3 linked regions of the Homo sapiens genome follow. The protein of the gene in region 1 interacts with the protein of each later gene in a biochemical or structural test. Each region holds a gene or a part of one and is shown on either strand. Other genes may lie near its edges. The genes, in order: IRF8, TOP1 and IRF1.

Region 1 (3,600 bases):
TCTACATAACCGGAAAATCCCTAAGATGGCTCTACCTGACCGAGGTTGACTTCATCCAACAGCCAAAGATCTATCCGGCCAACGTCACAGAGACAGGCCTCTCAGAGGATGGATGGGAAGAAGCATAGCTCAGGGAAGCACATGATGGGCTCTTGCTGGCGCCATGTCTCCACCGGCACTGGTGGCCCTCCCGATGGCCTCCCTGCTCCAGTGGGCACCCGCGTCTCCCTCCTGGCCCCATTCCTGCTGAGATGGTAGACTCATTTCAGATTGCCACATCAGGCGACTGCGTAACCAACGGAAACATTGGGAATCTTGCACATTTTTCTCAACACTGTTGAAACGGCCATGAAGAACATTGCATAAGATGTATAAATCTGGGGCTTTATTTCATTACCCCCCGAGCACAAGTTGAAGTAGGGAATGGGGTGAAGGGAGAAGCTTCGTCTCCGTCAGCATGCCACATGTCAGGGCTACACAGCCTAGTCCAGCACCCTCTGCCATGTCTTAAAGATGTTTTACTGATGTCCAACCTGCAACTGTGCCTTCAGCACCCAACACCTCTGGTTAAGTCTGTTGATCCTGGCAGTGGCCAGCTCTTATCAGGGTTCTTAATGGGGAGGGGAAGACTCTGCCCCACCAGGAGATATTTGGCAATGTCCAAGACATTTTTGATTGTGACAGTAGGGGAGGGGATGCTACTGGCATCTGGTGGGTAGAGGTCAGAGATGCCACTAAACATCCCACAAGGCATAGGGAACCCTTACAACAAAGAATTGCCCAGACCCAGACATCAACAGTGGCGAGGCAGAGAAATTCCGGCTTTTGGGGTTATCTATAATGCAGAGTTCCCAACCGACTGAATGGGACTCTGGCACTGTTTACATTTGCAGTCCTTCCCAAGAGAAGTTCACCATGATGCCAAAGGCAAAAAAAAAAAAAAAAAAAAGATCTGCAATCAAACAAGAGAGAAATCCACAATGGCACTAAGGGTGAGGAGGCAGGCAGTGGCATCACAAAACTTCTTGGTGCTGAGGCTCCCTGACCTGGGGTCCTTGATCAGAAAGAATCTGGAACGTGTGGGGGCACCAAGGGACCCCTCGAAAGTGAGTGCAAAGCGTTCCCTTGTCCCCATATTCCTTGGCGTGGTCAGTAATGGGCATCAGATTCTCAAGAAGATCAGCAACCTCAAATTGCAGATTTAACAGAATTACTGAAACGCACAGCCCCACTGCAAACATCGGTCAGGCAGAGACGTGCAGGACCAAAATGCATCTTAAGCTACCTTTGACCTATTTATGGTCCACTCTGGGGTTAAGGTGTGATCTTTTGTCATTTTTGTTCTCTGGTGTCAGGGGACAGTCATCTGTGGCTGGGAGTCCAGCACTGTCATGGGCTCCTACAGCCTTGACCCCCTCCACACCTTGTTTGTGGTCTCAGGTCTGATTCTGGCCCCCAACAACTCAGCCCCTTTCACCCCTCTCCCACACTCACTCTCCCCTCCCCATCTCTGGCCCCCAAATGCAAGAGAATAAGCACACATGGCAATGGCTTATAACCTGGGCTAGGACTCAGACTACGTGTAGTGTCCACACTGGCAAACGTGGAAGTCTAGCTTGACCTTGACCTTGGGCTCCGAATCTCCCAGAGGTGAAACCTGGACATCTGGAGCCTTAGAGATGCCCACACAGGACTCTGATGACCCACAAGGGATTCGATAGCCCAGCTGGTCTGCAGAGCTGGGCTGCCCTAATTCCTGGTTCCTCTGTCTGAATCTAGGTGTAATGGCAAGAAATCTCTGTTGATCAGCTATTCTGGAGTTAGGACCAAGGGTTCACAGTTGGGCCATCTTGCATCTGAATGCTGGCTCCGTCATACAAGAGCTGTGAGACCTCAACAAGTCACTTCTCCTCTCAGTGCCTCTATAGAATGAGGGTGGGAACAGCATCTACCACACAGGATCATGTGAGCAGAAAACAAGCCGTGGGCCAGGCCTGGCACAGAACAAACCCTCCATCACGTCTCTCCACGCATGGGGAACCGATTACTCTCAAGGGAGGTGAGACTATTTTTAGACATCTGCTGCAGGTTCACAACCCCCCACACGGCCCAGCCCCCAAAGGAATGACAGATGGCATCTCACCCTCCTGAGCTGGCCCTACAATGCCAGGCAGAAGTATCAGCTTTGAAAGAACAAGGACTGAAACCTTCCCTGGTATATGCATCGCCTCTAATGGAAGCCCGTGGGGAAAGGTCTTAGCGTGAAGGTCTCGAAGTATTTTCTCCCACTTGGCTCATCAGGAAAAGGAAGCAGCAGAAAAGAGAAGAAAAGAGCCTTCGATCTCCTCATCAGAATACAAGCGACCACAAAAGTGACTCCGTAATTCAAAAGATGTGAAATCAGCTCATGTACATGTCTGAGACACATTCAGCACTCCTGAACCAATGTTTGCTTTTAAAAAACTGGATTAATTTTTAAGTAAATGAGAAAGATGTCACTCAACATCTCCACTAGTCCATGAGGGAAAGGAGACACTGTGCCCACAGTGGGGAAGGGAGCTGGGCTCTTTACCTTAAAAATGGAGGCATCCACTTCCTGATTATAATCTTGCTTGCCAGCGTGTTTCCAAGGGATCCGGAACATGCTCTTCTCCTCATTCTCCCAAATCAGTCCTGGATACATGCTACTGTCAATCTGCTCGATCAGCCACTGTCGAAGCCGCCGACCACCATTCCGGTCACACATCCTTGGAAAGACAGAAATACACGCTGTGATATTACGGATATTGTCTCATTCATCACAGCAACCCAAAAACTGCTAACAGGAAACTCAGAGGTTTGCAGCAAAGGTGCTGGCTTGGGGGAAACCCACAGATTCAGGGACTCCGGGACACCTGCCATGAGAAGGCAATGCTGGCCTCCATGACCTCACAGCCCTGAGTGCAAACTGAAAGCTCCGTGGGAAACCTGCAGCCACCAGCAGCCCCCTGCAGGCCCCTCCCACTGTGCTGGCTGTGCTCCTTCCAGCTTTCATCTGCCCTTTCCTTTCAGGCAGATACAACCACAGTGAACAGCTCCAGTTTTAGCCCAAGACTGGAAGGAGAGGGGGAATCACTTTTACAGCACCAGGTTCCTTCACTGAGCAGCCCATTATCCGAAGAACCAACTGGGCTACCAGATGCCCAGCTGGCCCCACATTCCCTGATAGAATACTGCGTCCGTGCCGTCTGGGAAAGAGGAGGCCCTCAGGCCAGCCCATCTAAATAGCTGTTCCTTCACAGTGATAAGAGCAGCAGTTTGAGAATGAGACAGAACCGCGATCTCATTCAAGTCCCGCCACCGCTCAGCTGGGAGACGCTGGATCAGCATTTAAACTCAGGGCATCAGCTACCCAGTCCCAGATGCAGCTAACAAAACACTACCTGTACTGGTTGTAAGAGAATTCAGATGCTACACGGAAAGCAACTGAGACAGGGCCTGGACCTTACATGCCAGATGTCATTATTATTATCCAAACTTCCTTCCTGGGCAACTCCTACGACCAACTGAAAGATAGGGACAAGAGTGAGGAAATAAACTGCAGCTACCGAACAGGGCAAA
Region 2 (3,822 bases), on another chromosome or scaffold:
AATGGAAAATATTCTGGGCCTTAAAATGCAGTCTCATTCCACAGTAGTAGTTCTTAAACTCCAGTTGTACAAGTATAGAATTCCATGAACTTGGATGAGAAAAAATCTATAATTTCAATAACCTCTTTTTGGAACTTATTTATATTTATTTTTAAATTTTTAATACAGACAGGGTCTCACTATGTTGCCCAGGTTGGTCTTGAATTACTCAGCTCAAGTGATTCTCCCACCTCAACCTCCCAAAATGCTGAGATTACAGGTGTGAGCCACTGCACCCAGCTTCTAGCTGAAATTTAGTATTTCTTCTTCAGTTATGAATATGGGGAACAAACCATAGTAATAGCAGCAGCACTTATGACTTTATCATCAATAGATGTTAGACATCTTCATTTCATATTTGAATTGCTGCAGAAATCTTAAAGTATCATTGATATTAATTAATTACTACCTTGAAATTTACTACAGGCCACCTCAAGACCTTAATAAGGAAGCACATCTATTATCGGACTTTAAAATGTATTTTGATAACTGTATTTCAATATAATTTGTTTCCTTTTTAACCCTGTGTATCTGTTCTATAATGAAATATCTGCAAATTCTCACTGTGGACCACCATGTTAGGATGAATTAGTTATGAAGTCACTGCTAACACAAAAATGTTCATCATCAAATGTTAAGTGCCTTATGGTTTAAAAGCTCAGTACCAGGCGGAGTTAGGAGGAGGAAAGAGGCTCAGGGACAAGGAATAGCACCTATTTGCACACCAGTCTTTCCCTTTAGGGCAGCAAGTTGTCTGGCACACGGCCAGTATTCAACAGATGTTTGATGATGAACTATATAAAAATATGATTCATGTGGAATGCGTAAAAATAAAAATAGCTATGCTAGGATTTGAAAGACTTTAAATATATAATTGTTTCATCATCTTTTCAATTTGAAACAATCTAATTTGGAAATGGCTGTATTTCTGGGCTGTAGCAAGGAATTATGAAGACTCTCTTTAAATCCACTTTCCTCATGTACAATAAGGACAGTAATTAGCAATTAGAATGTACACCAAAGTTAGTTTTTCAAAATAGGGAGTGGCCAGTATAGAACTTCTATGCGTAGAATAAAGATTTCTTGAATAATGGATACTCTGATATTCAGTATCTTGATCAGAGATTAACTACTATCATATTTCCATTTGTTTATCTTTAGCATAGACCTTCTACAACAGACCCAGCACTGGCCTGCTGATATCTCAGCCCTGAATCCTCTCATTCGCAGATAATCTGCCCACAGCAGACACAGTTCCCTTCATTTTATCCAAGATACCTTAGTTTGCAAGTTCATCATAGACTTCTCAAAAGTTTTTGGTGGTGCCCTCTGATGGTTACAAAGAATTGCAACAGCTCGATTGGCACGGTTATAAGAAAGGATCTTCGCTGGGATGTTCTCATCCGCTGTAAAGAAAGGAACATGGTAGCAAGAGGGTCAGTTTGTACACCAAAAGTGAACACACAGTATGTCTTCCCCCAGTGCCTCGTCCCCATGATTTTGCTGGCTCTTATCTTACTCAGATGATTAATTCAAATTGCCCCCAAGGACTAAGGTCAAAATTTGAGTCAACAGTCTTAAGAAAATGATAGTAGGAAGTTTATATGTAAGCTTGGCCTGGGTAAATTCCTATCACAAGAGGAACTCTGAGTCTAGGTAATATAATAAAATCTACACCTTTCTTTTTACTCAGGGAACTTGGCTAGGGACCCTTCATCTCCTTGCTTCCTCCCCACCCATATGCTCATCATAGGTGCTGCTGATATTACTATGGTTTGTTGCCCATATTCATAAGTTCTATACTGGCCACTTCCTACCTCCCCACCTCTCCACCCAATGTAGCCAGAACAGAACGAGGAATTGAAGGGACGTTAAAAGTTTAAAAATTTTGGCCGGGCGCGGTGGCTCACACCTGTAATCCCAGCACTTTGGGAGGCCGAGGCGGGCGGATCACAAGGTCAGGAGATCGAGACCATCCTGGCTAACACGGTGAACCCTGTCTCTACTAAAAATACAAAAAATTAGCCGGGCGACATGGCGGGCACCTGTAGTCCCAGCTACTCGGGAGGCTGAGGCAGGAGAATGGCGTGAACCCCAGGAGGCGGAGCTTGCAGTGAGCCGAGATCGCGCCACTGCACTCCAACCTGGGTGACAGCAAGACTCCGTCTCAAAAAAAAAAAAAAAAAAAAAAAAATTAAGCCACAGTTGGTAGTATTATTATGGTTATTATTATTATTTTAGAGATAGCGTCTCACCCTGTCACCCAAGCTGGAGTGCGGTGGTATGGTCGTAGCTCATTACAGCCCTAAACTCCTGGGCTCAGCCTCCCAGGTAGCTGGGATGACAGGTGCACACCGCCACACCTGCCTAATTTTTAGAAATTTTAGTAGAGACAAGGTCTCACTACATTGCCCAGGCTGGTCTGGAACTCCTGGGTTCAAGTGATTCTCCTGCCTCGGCTACCCAAGTGTTGGGATTACAGGTGTGAGCCACTGCACATGGCCTGGTAGTATCTTATTTAAAAAGAAAAATTAAAAATGCCATCCAAAAAAATTGTTTTTATTTGTATAGTGTGGCATTCTTTATACCACCTTAAAATACTGACCCTCAACATACCTACCTCTGGCTTTTCTGGTTCATATTCTAAGGCCATCTGATGTATTTACAGAGGGCAGTGGAAATTCAATAGTGACTGGGCTCCAGGAAAAAAAAAGCCCGTGGATCTTGGTGATAATATTCTAAAAATCAGCTATAGAAAGTATCTACTCTCTTATGGGAAAAAAATGACAGAAACCTCAAGGAAAGGACTTGTTCCTGTATTTTTCTGGTAACCATGACAACTTTACTCTCTCCAATTTAACAGAACATCACAGCACTGTCTTCACTCTGTGGGCTTTTAAGTAATATATGTATAAAACACAAATGCAGGCATTTTTGTAGCAGGTGAAAAGCTGTCAGCATTCCATGAAATTAATCTTGAAGTTGGGGTGGGAAGGGGGAAACAGCATTGATCCTATGTTTATACAACAAAGCATTATCTCGCTACTAGAGGTCTAAAGGGAAAAAGTGTCTGACCACAATGGTAGGGAAAAAAAGTAGAACTGACTCTAGGCCTTAGATAAGCAAGGTCACCGGATACCATTAGTAGGGGTGTGGGCCCTATCTGGCCAAGCAATACTTACGGGCTGTCAGTTCTTTTAGCTGCTGCTGTAGCGTGATGGAGGCATTGTATGTACGGAATACCTTGGCTGTCAAGCCCTCCATGAGATCCTGAAGATGCTTATTCAGAATACCAGTCTGGAGGAGACAAAGCAACAGATTTAGGTCAAAGCTATACTACCTGCTCCTTCTGGCAGCCCTAGGAGTAATTTATGCCAGTGCAGTCACAATCTTGTCAAGTTTATTGCCCTACAAGTGGGAAGTTAGGGAAAGAGGAAAAGAATTCCAGAATACAGGGTTACATGATGCCTCTCTATGAAGTATTTCAATCTTTGTGTGTGTGTATGACAGGGTCTCACTCTGACACCCAGCCTGGAGTGCAGTGGTACAATCTCGGTTCACTGCTGCCTCCACCTCCCGGGCTCATGCAATCCTTCTGAGGCTCCTAAGCAGCTGGGACTACAGGTGTGGACTACCACACCTGGATAATGGTTTTGCCATGTTGCCCAGGCTGGTCTCAAACTCCTGACCTCAAGGGATCTGCCCTACTTGACCTCTCAAAGTGCTGGGATAACAGGCGTAAGCCACCAAGCCTGGCCCAGGTTGGTGGGCTTAACAAACCAA
Region 3 (3,822 bases), on another chromosome or scaffold:
CCCACAGGACTACTGCGAGGATTAAATGACACAATGTAAATAACATACTTAGCAGGTGCCAGGCACACAGGGAGTGTTCAGTAAGCATTAGCTATTATTATGAATACTATCATTGCTACTAAGTCTATAGGGTCTATGTTGCCCCAAGTGCACCAGCTATAGGCTTCTTGGGCCAGAGTGACTGGTGCAAGATTAACTCGTTTGTCCTCTGCTAAGCCAGGCACGTTTCTGCCCAGCAGCATCCACTTCTCAGTCTTCTATTTGTTCGATTGGAGCCCTGCAGAGTGCTGTGTATGTTTGTAAGGGTCTCGCTTAGAGGAGAGCAGAACTCCAGCTCTGCAGATGCTGGAAAGTCTTGCTGCTGGAAACTGGAAGTGCCTTCAGGTGGGTGCCCTACCTCAAGAAGGGAAGAAGGCAGGAGTCATGCAAGTGAGGCCCAGGCTGGGCCGTGCACACTCCCTGCATGCAGGACCCACTGGGAGAAACACCTGCTTGTCCCGTTATCACTTCCCTTTTTGAGCTGCATCTGAAGCTTTGGTCCCTCCAGAAGTACATGGGTTAAAACAGTGGCAGGAAAACCCAAAGAGTTACACTCACTTTATTAATCCAGATGAGCCCCGGGATTTGGTTGGAATTAATCTGCATCTCTAGCCAGGGTCTCATGCGCATCCGAGTGATGGGCATGTTGGCTGTAAAGAGAACACAGAGGCTCCAGTCTGGAATCTGTTGAACAGTACCTGGGCAGTGACCTGCCCCACCCGAGGTCACTTAGTTACCCTCCCCTCACCTCAGCCAGCTGCTAGGTACTACACTCAGTGCGGAGGGGAGCTGCGCTGGAATAAAACTGCTCTCCAAATTTTTTCAGCATCTTAGGCAAAAATGCTTTTGCCCCTTCCTTCAGCCCCTCCCAGCCAGTCTCTGGAGGAGACAGGCATGCAAGTGATGGCTTCAGGATTCATATGCAGGAAAAGAGACAAAATGCACAGATACCCTAATTTCAGAACTTTTCGCTCAAAATTCAAATCCTTTGGGAAGGGAGGGACTTCTTTTGCTTGATGCCAAGAAGAAATTCCCTTGACTTGAGTTGTAACCACTAGCTAGCAAAGGGCTAGCCGTCACCCTGAACAGCCCCCTCCCGCCCCCCTGAATCCATTCTACGCCTTCCTGACAGCCACAGCGCCCACAACGCTAAGACCAGGACGCTAACCCTTCCGGCCCGGTTTCCCCTCCTCTGGAGAAGTGGCCCAAGGAACACCTGTGGCGCCTCTTCCCGCAGTCTCCGTAGGTCACGATTCCCTCCAGCCACCTGGGCAGTAAGCCAGCCCTTGCCACCAGCACAGGGAGCCCAAAACCTGTCGCCTGGGCGCGGAGCTGGGACCGCCGAAAGCCGGGAGCACTGGGCGCCCACGCGTGGGCTGACACTCGGTCCCCGGCACGGCGTGTGGATGCGCGGGACGAACATAGCGGGCCACCTACAGGCCCCTGGCGGCTGCGCGCACGCAGATCTGCGAAAGCTGCCGGGCGCCGGCAGCCTCGTCCGGGTGGGCGGTCCACGCCGCGTCCCGCCCTCCCCGCGCCGCGGCCCGCGGCTCGCAGCTCCTCCGGCGCCCCCCGGAGCCCGCGCGGAGGCCCGGGCAACGCCGCGCGCCGGCGAGTCTCCAGCCTGGAGCTTTCGACCCCCCACTTCCTGGTGCCCCGCGCGCCTTTTATTCGACGCCGCCGGTGCCCCGCGCCTCAAAGGCGTACTCACCTCTGCTGCAGGAGCGATTCGGCGGTCGCGCGCGAGGGTCCCGGCGACGCAGGGGCTGCAGTGAGGGCGCGCGGAGCGCGACTCCGAGTGGAAGAGGGAAGAAGGCAGAGGTTGCCGGGTTCTTAAGGCCGCCGGGCACGGCCGGCGTGGACTGGGCACGGCTCCGGGTGGCCTCGGTTCGGCGGGGCTCGGGCGCACGTCTTGCCTCGACTAAGGAGTGGCGAGCTCTGCCAGGGCAGCGGCGCCACCGAGCAATCCAAACACTTAGCGGGATTCCCCAGCCCTGGCCGGCCCCGCCCCCGGACAGCCGCGCGGGCGCCCATTGGCCGGCTGCGTGCCGTCATTTCGGGGAAATCAGGCTGTTGTAGAGCTAGCGGCGAAGGGGAAGTACAGGGCGGCTGCTCCGCCCCACCCTCTCCGGCCGGGCGCCACCGCCCCGGGGCCACCGCGGGCCCGCCCCGAGCGCTCCCAATCCACCCCTGCTCCGGCTTGCCCGGAGGAGGGCTGCCCGGGACAGCCCAGCGCCCCTGGCCCCAGCCTGTCCTCTCACTCCGCCTTGTCCCAGCCGGCTGGCTCCTGGGGCCATCTTTTCACCCTCCTGGCGGGGCGGGGGCGGGGGTATATCTCCCGAACGCAGGTGAGGGGATCGCCCGGGCACTTGCCGCCCTCTCCAGTGGGAACACTGGGCCGAATCTCCCGACTGGCAGCCTGGCTCCTCAAGCTTGCCAGTGGGATATCAAGAAGGGAGGGTTTCAGTCCTAGCACTACCCCTGTTTTTAGGGGTGACCCCCTCCCTCCAGGTCACTCACCTGCCCTGGGGAAGTGAAGAAGGCAGAAAGCCTACCCTGCCCCGTGTGCTGTCTGGGGCTGCTGGACCAGGGGAAATCCCAACTTGGCCGCTGCTGGCACAGCCCCCAAGGGACGCAGGACCTCTGTTTTTCAACCATAAAATAATAGTAGCCCTACCTTGATGGTTTGCTGTGATGGGAAGAGATTGTAAAGCACTATGCTCCACTCGGGCAACAGACGCTGAGTAGTTTTCAAGGTCGCCGTTGCAGGGTCTAATAGTGACCAGGATGACACCCCACCCCTTTTCGGTCTGCCTCCCTGGGACTCCCCCTGGCTGGCTTTAGGGAACAGAGGAGGAGAAGGGGTTCAGAGAAGCCCAGACGGCTGAGTGAGGGTAGGGGTGGGCTAGCTCTGATCCCTCCTAGCACTCTTGCCTCAGGCCGCCTCCAGAGCCTCCCTGTGGCCCGCGTATGGGAGTTCCGCAATGGAAGCATTGCTGTCATCTCTGAGTCCCCAGGGCTTGGCCCAGAGAGGTTCTGGGCAGCATGGAGGAATTAGCTCAGGGCTGATCAACGCCATGGGGCTAGCCAAAGGGTTGGGGAGCCCAGGTCCCATGCTCCTTGGTAAGGCCCCTACTTAACTCTCGCGCACAACTAGTCCCCGCCCCACGTATAGTCCTAGAGACTTGACTGGGTGTTCATTTTCCATCCAAAACTCTGGCCCAGGAGGCTTCTTCCTTCATCTCCCTAAAGCTCCTGCAGAAGTAAGTTACTCTCCCAGGCGTGTCATTTCCTTCACCCCAGCTCTCCCTCCAGGGCAGCACCCCATTTTGCAGGCTATAAATAGACACACCCATGCAACATTCGACTTGCCAGTCACTCTACCTCCCTCCCGTAGAGGAAATGCATGGGTTAATCCCATTCTGGCGCATTGCAATCTGAGTGCTGTGACCAATGCCAAACCTGGTTCCCAGGATACCAGCAGGAATGGGCAAAACTGTCTACCAGATAGAGGTGGGTCAGGAGCTAGGAGAGGAAAGGAGGTAGGAGAAACTGAGGAAGGAACCTAACTGAGTGTTAAGCAAAGTGGAGGGCAATGACACTCTGGAATGGAAAGGTGGGTTTTGGGGTACTTTAAGTGACAAATGGAAGTGGGGACTTGCTACAGGGACCAAGACCTTCTGAGCAAGAATAAGAGAAAACAAGTGACCCCTGAGTCGTGGGATCCTTTCTTGGTACAGCAAATAGATGCTTGTCCTTCCCCTGAGAACCTGACACATCCAC

The links.
Region 2: the proteins of IRF8 (region 1) and TOP1 interact in a test that uses a peptide from one of them, tested with the Homo sapiens proteins (one study listed by BioGRID).
Region 3: the proteins of IRF8 (region 1) and IRF1 form a complex in vitro, tested with the Homo sapiens proteins (one study listed by BioGRID).

The regions. Positions count from the first base shown.
Region 1 is NC_000016.10:85,902,162-85,905,761, reverse strand, and holds part of IRF8 (interferon regulatory factor 8), read right to left. Parts: intron 3,546-3,600; exon of another isoform or gene 2,902-3,545; coding exon of another isoform or gene 2,873-2,901; intron 2,748-2,872; coding exon of another isoform or gene 2,747-2,747; coding exon 2,573-2,746; intron 1-2,572. UniProt on the Homo sapiens protein: Transcription factor that specifically binds to the upstream regulatory region of type I interferon (IFN) and IFN-inducible MHC class I genes (the interferon consensus sequence (ICS)). Can both act as a transcriptional activator or repressor.
Region 2 is NC_000020.11:41,115,792-41,119,613, reverse strand, and holds part of TOP1 (DNA topoisomerase 1), read right to left. Parts: intron 3,337-3,822; coding exon 3,222-3,336; intron 1,446-3,221; coding exon 1,318-1,445; intron 1-1,317. UniProt on the Homo sapiens protein: Releases the supercoiling and torsional tension of DNA introduced during the DNA replication and transcription by transiently cleaving and rejoining one strand of the DNA duplex.
Region 3 is NC_000005.10:132,488,795-132,492,616, forward strand, and holds the start of IRF1 (interferon regulatory factor 1), read right to left. Parts: upstream 1,980-3,822; 5' UTR 1,751-1,979; intron 690-1,750; 5' UTR 685-689; coding exon 598-684; exon of another isoform or gene 1-597. UniProt on the Homo sapiens protein: Transcriptional regulator which displays a remarkable functional diversity in the regulation of cellular responses.